Linked DNA regions of Homo sapiens: regions 1 and 3 are each linked to region 2. Evidence: fine-mapped expression QTL. A gene starts in region 2. Each other region holds a variant in brackets. All regions are shown on one strand. Distances are between the middles of the regions. Region 1 overlaps CD300H (CD300H molecule (gene/pseudogene)). Region 2 holds the start of CD300LD (CD300 molecule like family member d). Region 3 holds the start of CD300H (CD300H molecule (gene/pseudogene)).

Region 1 (5,230 bases), 32 kb after region 2:
CTCTGTTACTCCAGTCAGGCTTTGGTCTGCCTATTGGAAGACGATGGTCCTAGAACATCTGTCCAGCTGCCTCCTTGAGCGTCCTCTGCTTTATGAAGTCAGAACCATGCAGGTACCAGGTACTCAGCTGGGAAGAGTCAGGCGTAGGGCACTGAACCTCTGTTCTTTATCCTCAGCCTCCAGTACTGAGAACTCTGTGAAGACACCTGCATCTCCCACCAGGCCCAGCCAATGCCAAGGGTAAAATGCACGTGTCCCAGTGTCTTTTGCCATGTGTGCAGCTTCTTTCCTAGGGTGGGGCTTCCTAGACACAGGTTTCCTTGATTATTCACCCACTCAACATTTATTTATTTATTTATTTTTTGAGACAGAGTCTAGCTCTATCGCCGAGGCTGGACTGCAGTGGCACGATCTCGGCTCACTGCAAACTCCGCCTCCCGGGTTCACGCCATTCTCCTGCCTCAGCCTCCTGAGTAGCTGGGACTACAGGCGCCCGCCACTAGGCCCGGCTAATTTTTTTTTTTGTATTTTTAGTAGAGACGGGGGTTTCACCATGTTAGCCAGGATGGTCTCGATCTCCTGACCTCGTGATCTGCCCGCCTCGGCCTCCCAAAGTGCTGGGATTACAGGTGTGAGCCACCGTGCTCGGCCAACAGGTGTTTATTTGTTATGCGCCAGAAACTGATGGAGATTCTAGAGATGCAACAGTGAACAAAGGGGCAAGATTGTGCTCTTGAGGAAGTTGCAAATAGGTAGATTCAGGCAATGGCCAGATGGATAGATAGATAGACAGACAGACAGGTGGACAGACAGATAGATGGATAGATAGATAGATAGATAGATAGATAGATAGGTGGATAGATAGATAAACAGACAGATGATAGATATGATATGAAAGATGATAGAGATGGCTGGCTGGCTGACTGGAAAGACAGATGGAGATGATAGCTGGCAGAGAGAGATATGTAATAGAGACAGAGAGACGATAGATCAAGGAAATATGTCAACGAATGATAATTACTGTGGAGGAAAATAAAGCAGGTGTAAAGAGATAGGGTGCCAGAGTGTGTGGGAAGCTGGTGGGGCATGATTTGGGCTATCAAGGAAATACAAGATGTTCCACAGAAACAAAGAACAAAGGGACTGTCTTAGTTTGGGTTTCCCCCAAATCAGGTCCTGAGACAAGGACTTAGGAGCAATTTGTTTATTGAGAGGTAATCTCAAGAAGTACATTGAGAGAGCAGAAAGTGAGACCAGGAAAGGGGAAGGGCGGTGAAATGTGCTGTAATGAAGGGGTTATCCCCGTAGTAACTGGAGTCACTGGAGATTAACCCCTCTGGGCACCCTATGAGAGACTGTGTAGAACGTTCCTCAGAACTGGAGACAGAGTCTTCCAGGCAGCAGGCACTCCTGGGGGCATGAATTCTGTGGCCCATCTGGCCTGCTCTGCACAGGAAAATGTGTGCACTCTTGTAGATAACCTCAGGCAGAGATGGGGAGCTTGAGCTGGGAAATCCTTGGTGGGGCCAAGACTGCCTGCAGCTGCCAGGAGCTCAAGTGGGCAAAGGTGATATGGGGCAGGGCGCCAACAGGGTTTGTTACAGGGACTCGTCTTAGAGAGGATCAGGGAGGGCATCAGACAAGCCCTGCAGGTAGAGGGCTGGGAAGGTGGAGAGATGGCACAGCGGCCCATTTTGGGGAGAGAATGCAGCATCTGAGGAGTTGGAATGGGAGCAGTGTAGTGGGACCCACGGAGCGAGACGACTGGCCATGGGCTGAGCTTGGAGAGTTCACTCCTTGGGGTTGAGATTGTTAAGCCGTTTAAGCAAAAGAGCTGTTCTTGTGATCATATTTAATTTGAGTGAAGATGGTTGTAAAGGAGTATTTCATCCTTGAGGTTGTTCCCAGCAAGAGCTGAGTTCCTGCGGGCATCAGTGGCTGAGGGATCTGTTCAGGAAGTTGTTTCTGGGAGCCAGTTCCTGCCTGGGTTAACATATCTCTCTTCTTCTCTATCCCTCACCTCCGGCATCTGTTGGGTCTTGACACTCAAGGTTAATTCTGAGCTGAATGAAGGTCAGGAGCCTGTGACCCTCAGCATGGGGCTGCCTGACCCTGGTACCCACCAGGCTTGATGCTGACATTGGGTTTGAGGGCACAGGACGAGACCTCGAGGGAAGGCGGGGGAGAGGCAGAGCCTGGGACTCCCCGGAGAAGGCAGCTTACTACTAGTCACTCTCTCCGTCTCACAGGTCCCTGCCCAGCAGCACCTGCTTCCTGCTTCTCCCACTCCTGAAGGTGCCTCTGCTCCTGAGCATACTCGGTGCTATCCTCTGGGTGAACAGGCCTTGGAGGACTCCTTGGACAGAGTCATGAACAGGAGAACTTGCAACACCCCATGCCCATTGGAACCCTGTCCAGAGACACAGCCCCTCTGACTGCAAAAAGGACTTCTGACCCTGACCCTCATATTTCTTTCCATCTTATCACCGGATACTTTTTAAAAGTTAAAAAAAAATGTAGGCCGGGTGCGGTGGCTTAC[A/C]CCTGCAATCCCAGCACTTTGGGAGGCCAAGGCAGGTGGATCACTTGAGTCCAGGAGTTTGAGAGCAGCCTGGGCAGCATGGTCAGACCTCATCTCTACAAAAAAATACAAAAATTAGCAGGGTGTGGTGGTGTATGCCTGTGATCCCAGCTACTTGGGAAGCTGAGACAGGAGGATCGCTTGAGCCCCGGAGGTGGAGGTTGCATTGAGTCGAGATTGTGCCACTGCACTCCAGCCTGGGTGACAGAGGGAGACCCTGTCTCAGATAAACAAATAAATAAATAAAATACATCCCATACACAAGAGTATGTATATGAGGTATCTATACAGTTCAAGGACTAAAAATAAACATGTGTACCCACCATTCAGCCTAGGAAATCAATCATTATTAAGATGTTTGAAGCCCCCCATATGCCTCTCCCTGACCTCATAACTGTCTTTCCCCTACTGTCAGGGTTAAATACTATCTGAATATTTCTTGGAGTAATCACTCCCTTGCTTTAGTGTGCTGAGCAAGGACATGGTTGTTTTTGAATCCTGCACAGAGGAAATCATACTGTTGCAAGTTCTTCTGCTCATAAACCATATTGGATTTTTTTCCTTTCCTGACAGTAGATTGTAGGGAACTCCCTACAAACAAACAAAAACAAAACAAAACTGTGATTGGGCCATCAACTGGTTCAGTTTAAGTTGGTTTACTGTTATATGATGGGACCCCTCTGAGTTTTTCAGGGACCAGGTTAATGTATTGAGGACATGTTTAAAAATGTACCTGAGGCTGGGCATGGTGGCTCCCATCTCTAATGCCAACACTTTGGGAGGCTGAGACGGGATGATTGCTTGAACTCAGCCTGGGCAACATAGCAAGACTTCATGCCTACTTAAAAAAAAAATTTAGCCAGGCATGGTGGCACGCACCTGTAGTCCCAGCTTCTCAGAAGGCTGAGGCAGGAGGAATGCTTGAGCCTGGGAGATGGAGGCTGCAGTGAGCTATGATCATACCACTACACTGTGGCCTGGGTGACACAGTGAGACCCTGTCTCAAAACAAAACAAAAAAATGTACCAGGATTTGTTTTAACCAGATATGGTAAGGCATGCAGATACGGAAATGACTGTCATAAAGAAATAAGTTTCTACTCAAAGACCCCTAGAAGCAGGAGGTGCAGTGTGCCATGTAGGGCCACACGGGGAAGCACGAGGGCGGGTGAAGGGGCAGAGAGAGAGAGAGAGGAAATGTATGTGGGAGCCTTTATCATGGTTTTCAGAGGAAGTGATAGGCAAGGTAAGGTAAGCAAACAGCAGGCTTCGGAGTGTGTAGTTTGAATTATTCTGATGGGCTAGGATACAAGAGTGGTCTCTAGTTGTCTGGTACCTGGCCCTGGGGTGATTTAGGGCAGGGGAAAGAAAATATCCCAGACTGCAGGAGCCTGCTGAAAGGAAGCAGGTGGGGGCATGGAATAGGGAATGGTTTGGTTTGCATATCAAAGGCAGACTTGCAGGCCAGTTGTTTACTTTCTCTAGGAATTAGCCCTGGGAGAGAGTTATTTGGATGGATATATTTGCCTATCTGAGTGGCTAAAATAAAAAAATAGTGACTATGTAGCAGGAAGAGCCACAGACAAAACTCCTCAGACACCGAGTTAAAGAAGGAAGGGGTTTATTCGGCTGGGAGCATCGGCAAGACTCCTGTCTCAAGAGCTGAGCTACCTGAGTGAGCAGTTCCTGTCCTGTTAAGGGCTCACAACTCTAAGGGGGTCTGCATGAGAGGGTCCTGACTGATTGAGCAAGCAGGGGGTACGTGACTAGGGGACGCATACACTGTTAATTAGAACGGAACAGAACAGGACAGGGATCTTCACAGTGCTTTTTTATGCAAATAACCGATTAGGTCAGGGGTCTATCTTTACCAGGCCCAGGGTGTGGTGCTGGGCTGTCTGCTTGTGGATTTCATTTCTGCCTTTTAGTTTTTACTTCTTCTTTCTTTGGAGGCAGAAATTGGGCATAAGACAATATGAGGAGTGGCCTCCTCCCTTAACAACACCAAATGCTGAAGGATGTGGTGAAACTGGATCACTCCTATGTGGCTGGCAGGAATGTAAAATGGTGCAAACACTCTGGAAAATAGTTTGTCAGTTTCTTACAAAACCAACCATGCAAGGACCATATGATCCAGTGAACGCATTCTTAGGTATTTATCTCAGAGAATGGAAACTTATGTTCACCCAAAAACCTGTGCATGAAAATTCACAGCAGCTTTATTCATAATAGTCCTGAACTGGAAGCAAGCCAGACATCCTTTCAGGGGTGAACGGTTCAACAAATTGCAGTTCATTCCTACCACAGAATGCCACTCCAGCACTAGAGAGGAGCAAGCTATTGATGTACGCAACAATTTGGATGAATCTCGAGGAGGTTATGCTGAGTGAAAAGCTCCAATCTGCAGTTTACGTACCGTATTGCTCCATTTCTATAACACCCTCAAAATGACAAAAGTACAGAAATAGATGACAAATGAGCAGTTCCCAGGGCTTAGCGATGGGGGATGTGGAAAAAGAGGGATGTGGATATGAAAAGGCCACTGCTTGGACAATGTTTAGTTTCAGCTTAAAAACTCTCATCTCACCCTCTACAACTGCCTCTCCCCTCCAGCCTCCTCTAACATGTCCTCTGGCTCATGTCTAAGTGGATT
Region 2 (5,230 bases):
ACAACAACAAACCCACCACCATATTAAAGGAATAGCCAAATTTCCAGCTTCTGTGCCAACAGTGACAGGTTTACTAGAATAGATGAGCATAACCTGGTGTGTTGTGTGTGACTGTTGATCTGGCAAAAGCATCCTTTCCGCCACCATCAGGAAGGAGGAACAGAGGCAGGCGCATTCGCTTGGCATGGACAACAGTATACTTTCACAGTCTTGTTCCAGGACTGTGTTAATTTTCTTCTCCTTGTAGTATTGTTCTAAGAAACCTGAATCGTCCAGCCATTGCCCAGAACATAAAGGTAGTCCCCTGTGTTTATGACATCATGCTAATTGCACCTGATAACAAGAAGAGGCTAGCAACTGGATGTGCTCCAGAGGCTGGGAGATAAACCCTACACTGGTTTAGGGGCCTGCCGTGTCAAAAGATTAGGGGTATGGTGGTCTGGGGCATATTGGGTGTACCCTCAGAGTAAAGGGCAGATAAAATAAATTGCATTTTGCAACTCCTACTTCTAATTGACCCACCTGATAAAACTCAGGGGAGGCTTTGAACTCAGAGCCAGCAGGTGTGATGAAGAGTGTGGGTCAGAAGTGGGAATGGAGACTGGGGACCCAATTGGAGCTTTGTTCATGGAGCAGTTCCACAAACATGTTTTTGTTTTGTTTTGTTTTGTTTTTGAGATGGAGTCTCACTCTGTCACCCCGGCTGAAGTGCAATGGTGTGATCTCGGCTCACTGCAACATCCGCCTCCCAGGTTCAAGTGATTCTCCTGCCTCAGCCTCCCAAGTAGCTGGAATTACAGGCGTGCGCTGCCATGCTGGGCTAATTTTTGTATTTTTTGGTAGAGACGGGGTTTCACTATGTTGGCCAGGCTGGTCTTGAACTCCTGACCTCAGGTGATCCACGCGCCTCGACCCCCCAAAGTGCTGGGATTATAGATGTGAGCCACTGTGCCCGGCCAAACATGTACATCTTTACATATACCCCAAATGCCTGGAGGCAGGCACTGACCCCCAGGCAAAAGAGCAGGAATTCTTTATTTTAATGTAATATCTGGGAAGCCATGGCAGTGAGAATGCTGGAGCTCAACTTCAATCCTCTTCAGTCTAGAGTTTAGAAGACCGCTCTCTGCCCACGCCCCTTAAAGTGTAGCTTGTAAGTCAAGAAAGAATCAAGGGTTCAAACAATTTGGCATGATAAATTGGAACTATTTTCTTTTCTTTCTCTTTCTTTTTATATTTTATTTTATTTCAATAGTTTTTGGGGAGCAGATGGCTTTTGGTTACAAGGATAAGGTCTTTAGCAGTGACTTCTGAGATTTTGGTGCACCCTTCACTGGAGCAGTGTACACTGTACCCAATGTATGGTTTTTTATCCCTCATCCCCTGCATCCTTTCCCCTAAGTCCCCAAAATCCATTGTATCATTCTTGTGCCTTTGTATCTTCATAGCGCAGCTCCCACTTATAAGTGAGGATGTACAATATTTGGTTCTCCATTCCTGAGTTATTTCACTTAGAATAATGATCTCCAACTCCATCCAGGTTGCTGTGAATGCCATTATTTTGTTCCTTTTTGTGGCTGAATAGTATTCCATGGTGTATATGTACACCGCATTGTCTTTATCCACTCATTGCTTGATGGGCATTTAGGCTGGTTCCCTATGTTTTCAATCGCAAATTGTGCTGCTATAAACATGCGTGTACAAGTGTCTTTTTTGGAACTAGTTTTTTTGCCCAGGCTAGAGAGCAGTGGTGCAATCTGGGCTCACTGCAATCTCCACCTCCCAGGTTCAGGCGATTCTCCTGCCTCAGCCTCCTGAGTAGCTGGGATTACAGGCGTGTGCCACCACCTGGCTAATTTTTGTATTTTTAGTAGAGATGGGGTTTCTCCATGTTGGCCAGGCTGGTTTCGAACTCCTGACCTCAGGTGGTCTGTCCGCCTTGGCCTCCCAAAGTGCTGGATTACAGGCATGAGCCACCAGAGCTATTTTATATACTATTTACTCCTACATACTCTGAGGTCTCAGTTAGCTACACTTTATCTTGTTCTCAACTATGATTGGATAACCAAGAATCAGCAGACACTTGAGGAAGGCTCATAATATAGAAGAAGCAGACAACAAAACAAAGATGTGACCACTGAGTGGAGGGATATAGTTCAAGGAACAGAAGAGAGTTTGAAAACATCAGTAATCAAAGAACCAAAAAAACTTTTCGAAATAAAAATACAGTCTCTAAAATCAATATTTGATCCAAGGATTGGAAGGGAAAGTACAAGCATGAAATAAACAATATAAAAAGCTCCCCAAATGTAGAACAAAGCCCACAGATATGGAAAATATAAAACAGGAGAGAAAAAATGAATCGATTCAGGAGGGAAAGGGAGAGAAAGAGGGAAGGGACCATCTAAAGAAAGTGGGGAGAGACCGGGAAAGAAGTCAGTTCGGGCGTCAGCAGAACAAGTAGATTACAACAGCAGCCAGGGGAAAGTGTGCAGGGATAGGGAGGATGAAATCAGGGCAAGAGGAGGCTAACGAGAAAAGGCAATTTCTCCATTCCTGACCTTCCCCACTGAGCCCAGCTTTGGCTTCAGAGTGATTTCAGAGTGGCTTCAGAGTGACTCATGATCCCAGTGGAAGTGTTCCTGGGGGAAGGGGCAGTGGGTCAGACAGCCCAGGGCAGGAAGAGGCAATGAGATGTCTTACAGTGGGGCTGCCTGGAAGAAGCCTGGGGCATGGGCTTTCTCCAGCAAGGCTGGGTGTGAGTCCTGTGCACTGTGGTCTTCCCAAAGTGCTCCTCTCCCTGCACTCCTCATGGCTGGCCTTGTCCGTCCTCTCCTCCAGGCAGTAGATCCCGCAGCTCCTCAATGCTTGGGTTCCTCCTGGCTCCTCCTGCTCCTTGGCTCCTACGTGCACTCCCGTGCAAACCTGACCAGTCCCGGACACATTTTCTTTTCCACATGCACAAAAGTTTGGGCACACCTTGCAACATACACTGTACCTTAGTCTTTTCAAAGAATGACACCTCTTTTCTCCTAATATGTAAAAAGAGAAGTAGCTACAGATGTAACAGGAAGTGAGCAAGAGACTTGAAGGAGATTCGAGTAGGTTTGCGGTGTTGACTTCCGAGCTTGGATTCAAGTCCCTGAAGGGCACCAGACACCTGTGATCACCAAGGAGAGGAGAGGAGACAGGACCATGTGGCTGTCCCCATCTCTGCTGCTTCTCATCCTCCCAGGTGAGTGTGGCTGGAGCTTTAAGGCACTGGAATGACAGCGGCTGGCTTGGAGACAGAGACGCTCTGTTCTCAGGAAGGAGACATGTCAGGGAAAATGACAGCGCCAATTCATCCATCCATGCCCATATTCATTAAATAGCAATCAAGTTTTTGTTATCTGACAGGTTCTGTGTTAGATGCTGCAGAAACAAACACACACAAAACAAAACAAGTATAGCTTCTTGTTGGAACAGTGGTTCTCAACCCTGACTGTTCCATATAAACAGATGAATGAACAGATATCAATGAAGGAAGGAACTAATGAGTGAGTCCATTCTTGAAGAACTTTTTTTTTTTTTTTTTTTTGAGCTGGTGTCTCGCTCTGTCACCCAGGCTGGAGTGCTTCTTTCACTTAGCATGATGTTTCAAGGTTACTTTGTGTTGTAGCACAAATCAAAGCTTCATTCTTTTTCATGGCTGCATAGTATTTCACAGTGGATATACCACATTTGGTTTCTCCAGTCATTTGTCAATGAACCTTAGGGTTGTTTCTACCTTTTAAAAATTGTTAGTAATAATGTTATGAACTTTCATAGCACAGTTTTGTATGGAGATATGTTTTCAGTTCTCTTGGGTATATATCTAGGGGTAAAATGGCTGAATCCTATGTTAATTCTATGTTTAACTTTTTGAGGAAGCATCAAACCTTTTTCCCAAGGATTTATATTTGAGTACAGCTTTGGCTGTCATGTCAACAAATTTTGATACGTAGTGTTTTCATTTCTGTTAAAATGTAACAAATCTATGTGCTTCTCATATTATCTATACTCAGATCAAGCTTTGTAAGAAAATTTTTCCTTCCAATCTCAAATTTATTTTCTTTTAAAATAGATTATTATTATTATTATTATTATTTTTATTTTTTTTTTTTTTGTAGAGATGAGGACTCACTTTCATGCCCAGGCTGGTCTCAAACTCCTGGGCTCAAGTGATCCTCCCACTTTGGCCTCCCAAAGTGCTGGGATTATAGGTGTGAGCCACCATGCCTGGCTTCAAATTTATATTCTGTAAACAATTTTCAGATATATTCTCCTTCCTTTCCTTCCTTCTGAGACAGGGTGTGCTCTGTCACCCAATCTGGAGTACAGTGCTGGGATCAGGGTTCACTGCAGCCTTGACCTCCCAGGCTCAAGCCATCCTCCCACCTCAGCCTCCTGAGTGAGTAGCTGGGACTACAGGCATGTGGTGCGACACCCAGCTAATATTTATTTATTTATTTAGTCTCGCTATGTTGCCAGGGCTGCTCTCAAGCTCCAGGGCTCACGCGATTCTCCTGCCTCAGCCTCCCAAAGTTGTTATATTACAAGTGTGAGCTACCACACCCAGCTCTTATTTCTTATAAATAACTTCCAGATGTAGTTTTTCTTTAAATATTTACCTTAATTGTTGTCTTTCCATTCTGATGTAGAACTTTTTTCAGAGTGAACAAATGAAGCCCCTATACCCATCTTTCCCCAGGAGGTCGTGTGTAGTTTCTTAGTTCCCTTCAGATGCCATAGAAAGCAGATTTGGGCATGGAGTCCAATTTCTGTTCCAGGAATTCCTTGGGTTGTGGAGCTCTGCCTGTTTATGGTGAAATTGTCTTCCGCTCCCACCATGGTGACCCTGGTTTTTCAAGACATTCCAATGAAGTCTAAAGTTTTCATTCATCCAGGGGTAATAATAATAATAATAATAATAACAAACATAATATAGTAACATAGAGGTAGATGCCATTACTATTCCCACTTATAGAAAACGAAGTCACAGTGTATTAGTCCATTTTCACGCTGCTGATAAGGACATACCCGAGACTGAGTAAATTACACAGAAAAAGAGGTTTAATGGACTCACAGTTCCACATGACTGGGGAGGCCTCACAATCATGGTGGAAGGTGAAAGGCATGTATTATATGGCAGCAGGCAAGAGAGAGAATGAGAGCCAAGTGAAAGAGGTTTCCCATTATAAAACCATCA
Region 3 (5,230 bases), 23 kb after region 2:
TCTTCTTGACTTGCAGATGGCTGCCATCTTTCTGTATCCTCGTATGGCAGAGAGAGTGCTATGGTCTGAGTGTTTGTGTTTCTCCAGAATTCATGTGTTGAAACTTATTCCCAGTGTGTTGGTATTAGGAGGTGGATCCTTGGGGATAATTCAGTTGTGGGGGTGTAACCCTTATGAACAGGATTAGTACCCTTGTAAAAGAGACCCCAGAGAGCTGTCTTGCCCCTTCCACCATGTGAAGACACAGCAAAAAAAAGTACTCTTTATGAACCAGAAGGTGAGTGCGCAACAGACACTGAATCTGCTAGCACTTTGATCTTGGACTTTCCAGCCTCCACAACTGTGAGTAATGCATTTCTGTTGTTCATAACCCACCCAGTCTATGGTATTTTAAAATAGCAGCCTAAATGGACTAAGAAAGAAAGTGAGATCTCTCTTCTTCTTCTGATAAGGGCACTAATCCCACAATGAAGGCCTGATCCTCATGACCTCATCTAACCCTAATTACCTCCCACAGGCTCATTTCCTAATATCACCACATTACGGGTTAGGGCTTCCACATATGAATTTTTGGGGGAACTCATCAATCCATAGCAGACACCCAGAAGCAGACTTTGTTGTGTTGTTAATTTCCCCTGAAGATACTTCCTGCTATTCTGCAAACAGATATTGAATGAAATAAGACTTGGAGGCCTCTTCCACTTGCCATCTCTCAACCCATCTCACCCCTGCCTGAGTGTTGCAATCCGTACCTTGCATCATGAGAGCCAGAGGTGGGACCCCACCGAAGACCTGGGTTCAAATCCTGACCTCCCCACTTCCCATCATGACAGTTTAGTTCGTCTTTCCAGCTCCAGTCATCTTATTTAAAAGTGACCTGGCAGGGGTGTTGGGATGGGTATGCAGGATTTAAATATACAGAGTGCATGGTACGTAGAAGATCAAAAGAGGAAAGTTTCCCAGAGGGATGCCACCACCTTCAAATGCCTTTGCTCAACTCCTGGGACTGAGCAGGGTGAATATTTTTATTCCTATTTCACAGATGAGGAGACTGATGCTAAGAGACTTTTGCTGATTTGCCTAAAGTCATATAACTAGTGAACAGCAGACCTTAAAATCTGAGCCAGGGCTCCCAGCTTATGGCCAGAACCTTCCTCACTGTGCTACATGGCCCACATCATCAGAGTCAGGTAGAGACCCTCTCTGAGCCGGGCTCCCTATAGCACCCCAGCCCCCATGTTGGGAAGACCCTCCCCACACCCTGCTCCCTAGAGAGCCCTGTATTTGTAACAAGATCCCAAAGAGGCATCCATTGCCCAGAGCCGGTCAGGAGGCTGCCCTCTTGGTGACGTCTCCCTTGAGTGCCAGTGGGGAGGGAAGAAAGTGGGCAGTGGGGTCCACCATCCTTGGGCACTTGCCCATTCTCACCATGATGCACAAGATACTGAGAACTACTCCCCAAATGGATTGACGTCGGGTAGTAGAGGTGAGAGAAGAGAGGCCCAATGCCTTAATACATTCCTGATCCCCTCCCCTGGAAAATATGGAAGGATCGGAGCTCTCACCCTCCAATTCAGCTCACAAGGCTGGGGCCGAGCTCTGTCTGCGTCTCCGGGTGCCCAGATTGGTCCTGCCTTTGTGGAGGCTACAGCCTCACCTGGAAATGGATGCCATGCAACAGGACAATGACAGCACAGGGACATGAGATTAAATACAGAAATAAGCATTGCAGGTAACAGGAACCCCAGAGGGAGGGGTCTGGAAGGCCTGGAGCAGGCAGGGATGCCTTCCAGGAGAGGTGTGGTCTGAGCTCATCCTGGGAGAGTGAGAAGGGAGGATGACGGTTTTCGAGGAAGCAGAAAGACAAGCACAGCCCCGAAAGGCAGAGAGAAATGTGTGGGCTACTCACACTGTCCTACACATCACATGCCCCGAGTTTGCCCTAAGAACGCACCCCTCACTGATGAGATCTTAACTTTCTGGAAGCCCCAAGAGCTGTCCCTCAAGGGCAGCGATGGTGGGGGTCTCAGTGTGGTGCAGTGCCAGGCAGGGCCCCGGGCTCCCCGCCCTCCTGTGCCTCATGGCCAGTGTTCATTATTCTCAGTCCTCCCCTAGCTCTGCCCTCCTGGAGCGGACAGCATTTTCCAGGACAGGTTTCAGAGACAGAAGGACAAGGGCCTGCTGGGGAAGGGACAGCGGCTCCAGATGCTGGCCTTGACATGGAAAAAGCCTGGATGTCCCAGATGTGGGTCATCTCTTCAAGGAATTTGTCATCTCCTGGGGGACTCCAGGGCCCAGAGTACATCTGCTTCAAAGGTGGGTTCCCTGTGGCATTGCCATGTCCTTTGCATTTGGCAAACTGTCTGGTCCTAGCTAAAAAAATGAAACACACACAGGCTGTTTCTAAGCAGACCCTGCAGCCTCTCCCTGCCCCGACCTTGGATGAGCGAGAAGCACGGAGTCGGTGTGCTGCGGGGCACCCTTCCAGCCCGGTTAGGGAACCTCCAGTAGTGGGTTCTGTGGTTGTGGTCAGTGACTTGCCGCCTTGTCCTGTAAGAGGACTGTGCTTCTCCTTCCCACTGACTTCAGGCTTGACCCTATGACGATGAACGGTGAGCAGGAGCCGCATGTGCGCCTTCTGAGCAGAGGCTCAGAGAGCCACC[C/T]GGTGCCTTCCCTCTCCTCTAGCGGACTGGGCTCCGCAGCCTGGTGCCCAAGCAATGCTGACTCACCGCTTGCGTATAGACGAGCGAGAAACAAGCTTCTGTGGTTACAGCATGCTGGGATTAGGAGTTTTGCTATGGCAATGTGAGCCAGAAAGAGCTGACTAATACAACCCTGTGCACCCGGTGGTTTGTCCAGACAAGGATGGCGAGAATGTTTTCTGGAAAAGTCTGCAGCTGTGCGTCATCTCCTTCACAGACTCAGATCCCTTCTTCCCAAGAAAGGCACGTTGAGCAGCCCTTGACGCAGAGTCAGGGAGGGCCAGGCAAGCCTTTCCTTAGCGCCCAGAGCTAGGCACAGAGGGCGGGGCTCGCAACCGGCTCTGCAGGCTGCAAGGGGAGACATCTTTATCACTCCCAGCTCCTGCTTCCCCTCCACACACATGCACGCACCAACCCACACACCACACATATACACCACATGTACACACACACACACCCATACACCTCCCCACGCCCACACATGCACACACCACCCCACACACCACACACATACGCCACATGTAGACACACACCACCCACACCCCCCACACATGCACACACATACACACACCACACACATACACCACATGTACACACACACCACCCACACCCTCCACGCCCACACATGCACACACATACATACACTACACACATCACCCCACATACCACACACATACACCACACACCACCCCACATACCACACACGTACACCACACATGGACACGCACACACCACATACACTCCCACACATGCACACATATACACACTACACACACCACCCAACACACCACACACACGTACACACATACACACTACACACATCTCATCTCATACACACCACTCACATCACACACACCACACACACATTACACACACCCTACCCCACATACTGTACATATACACCACATGTACACACATCTCACACCACACACGTGCACACACATACACACTACACACACACCACCTGTGCACACACACCACACACACATGCAAACACACACACTACATGCACCCCACCCCACACATCACACACATACACCACATGTACACACATACACACACTACACACATCCCACCCACACCACACACACCACTCACACCACACACACGACCCCAAACACCACACACATACACACACACTACACACATCTCACACACACCACTCACACCACACATACACACACACTACACACACACCATCCCACACACCATGCACATACATCACATGTACCTACATACACACATACCACACATACTACACACACTACCCACACCACACACACTACACATATATCCCTCATACCACACCCATATACACACATGTGAACACACACAGAAATATGAGGACTCCACATGCAGCAAAAAATGAACAAGCAGGAAACACATTTACTGAAACACCAAGGAGGAGACATTTGATAACAGAATGCCAGGAATTTGGAGTCTCCTAGTTCCAGAAATCTAAGTCCCTGAGTGAGGCCTTCTGAAGCTGTGCTTGCATTTATAAATCCTCCACAGCCATTCTGTGTATATCAGGCACACTTCTGGCCAGGTTCCCCCGAGTTAGCTCTTGATATATTGAAACTCTTATATGTGGTCATCTTGGGCGACAGGAAGAGCCACACAGGTCAAAAGCAAGGCTTATAGATGGTCCACCAAGCTCTGCGTGGTGCCAGGTCTGTGGAAACAGTCAGGCACGTGGCCAAGACAGGGACCTCTGGGGTCTGCTGAGGTCAGAGCAAGAGTGAGGGGTTAAGAGGTCAGAGCCTCTGAGGTTGCACCCAGCCTATCTGTACCACCAAGGATCAGAGATAGACCAGCGGGCATCGTGGGTGTGCCCCTACCCTGTGCAGTCTCGCAGGCCCGGCTCTTAGAAGGGTCCCACGTTTCATGCTTGGCTGTCACCATCTTGAAATTCTTAATAATTTTGGAAACCTAGGTTTGATTTTACACTGGGCTCTGCAAATAGCCAGTCTCATCCATCCAGTGAAGGCTGAGCCATACCCTGGGGCGGCTCATGCTGGCCACAGAAAACTGGCCATTCACAGAGGGGAGGACCTGCCCAGAAAATCCAGATGGCAGCTGGCCCAGTCTCACTGGTCCTGGGCCATGCTGTGATTTGGAGAAGGGCAGGCCTGTCAGCTGTGGGTAATGGGAGGGACATTGTCTTTACTGGGAACAGAAAGAGGAACAGCAAATGCAAACATGTTTTATTAGGAAGAACTTCAGCAAGTTCTCAAAATTGTTTCACCTGACCACATAGTGCCCCATGGCCCCAGCTTCCTCCATACTCTCACCAGCTCTGAGAACCAAACCCAGAAGAGGCCAGAGAAGGAAACGAGAGATGTGAGAAGGAAAAAGAGCCTCAGACCCTGCTGCCACAAGGGACTTCCATGCTGGTGAGATGACCCAGAGGGCTGGGGCTGCCATGCTGCCTTCAGCTCTGCTCCTTCTCTGTGTCCCAGATGAGCAGGGCAGGTCCTGGGTGCAGGGAGGTCTGCTCTGGCGGGTCAGGGTGAGGCAGGCATGAG

The links.
Region 1: its variant is fine-mapped to the expression of CD300LD in whole blood (TOPMed, PIP 0.95).
Region 3: its variant is fine-mapped to the expression of CD300LD in whole blood (TOPMed, PIP above 0.99).

The regions. Positions count from the first base shown.
Region 1 is chr17:74,557,844-74,563,073 of GRCh38, reverse strand. CD300H (CD300H molecule (gene/pseudogene)) reads left to right here. Exons shown (of 4, transcript NM_001405511.1): 3 at 177-240; 4 at 2,250-2,903. The coding sequence ends at 2,373. Among named protein-coding and RNA genes, the nearest start is that of CD300H, 7.0 kb to the left of the region's middle. The variant A/C (reference allele first, on the strand shown) is at 2,540.
Region 2 is chr17:74,590,168-74,595,397 of GRCh38, reverse strand. It overlaps CD300LD (CD300 molecule like family member d), which reads left to right and starts at 3,115. Exons shown (of 4, transcript NM_001115152.2): 1 at 3,115-3,235. The coding sequence starts at 3,196. It overlaps CD300LD-AS1 (CD300LD antisense RNA 1), which reads right to left. Exons shown (of 3, transcript NR_171003.1): 2 at 4,653-4,879; 3 at 1,189-3,414. RefSeq lists an enhancer at 3,082-3,211.
Region 3 is chr17:74,567,217-74,572,446 of GRCh38, reverse strand. It overlaps CD300H (CD300H molecule (gene/pseudogene)), which reads left to right and starts at 4,938. Exons shown (of 4, transcript NM_001405511.1): 1 at 4,938-5,098. RefSeq lists enhancers at 2,131-2,860, 2,861-3,591. The variant C/T (reference allele first, on the strand shown) is at 2,664.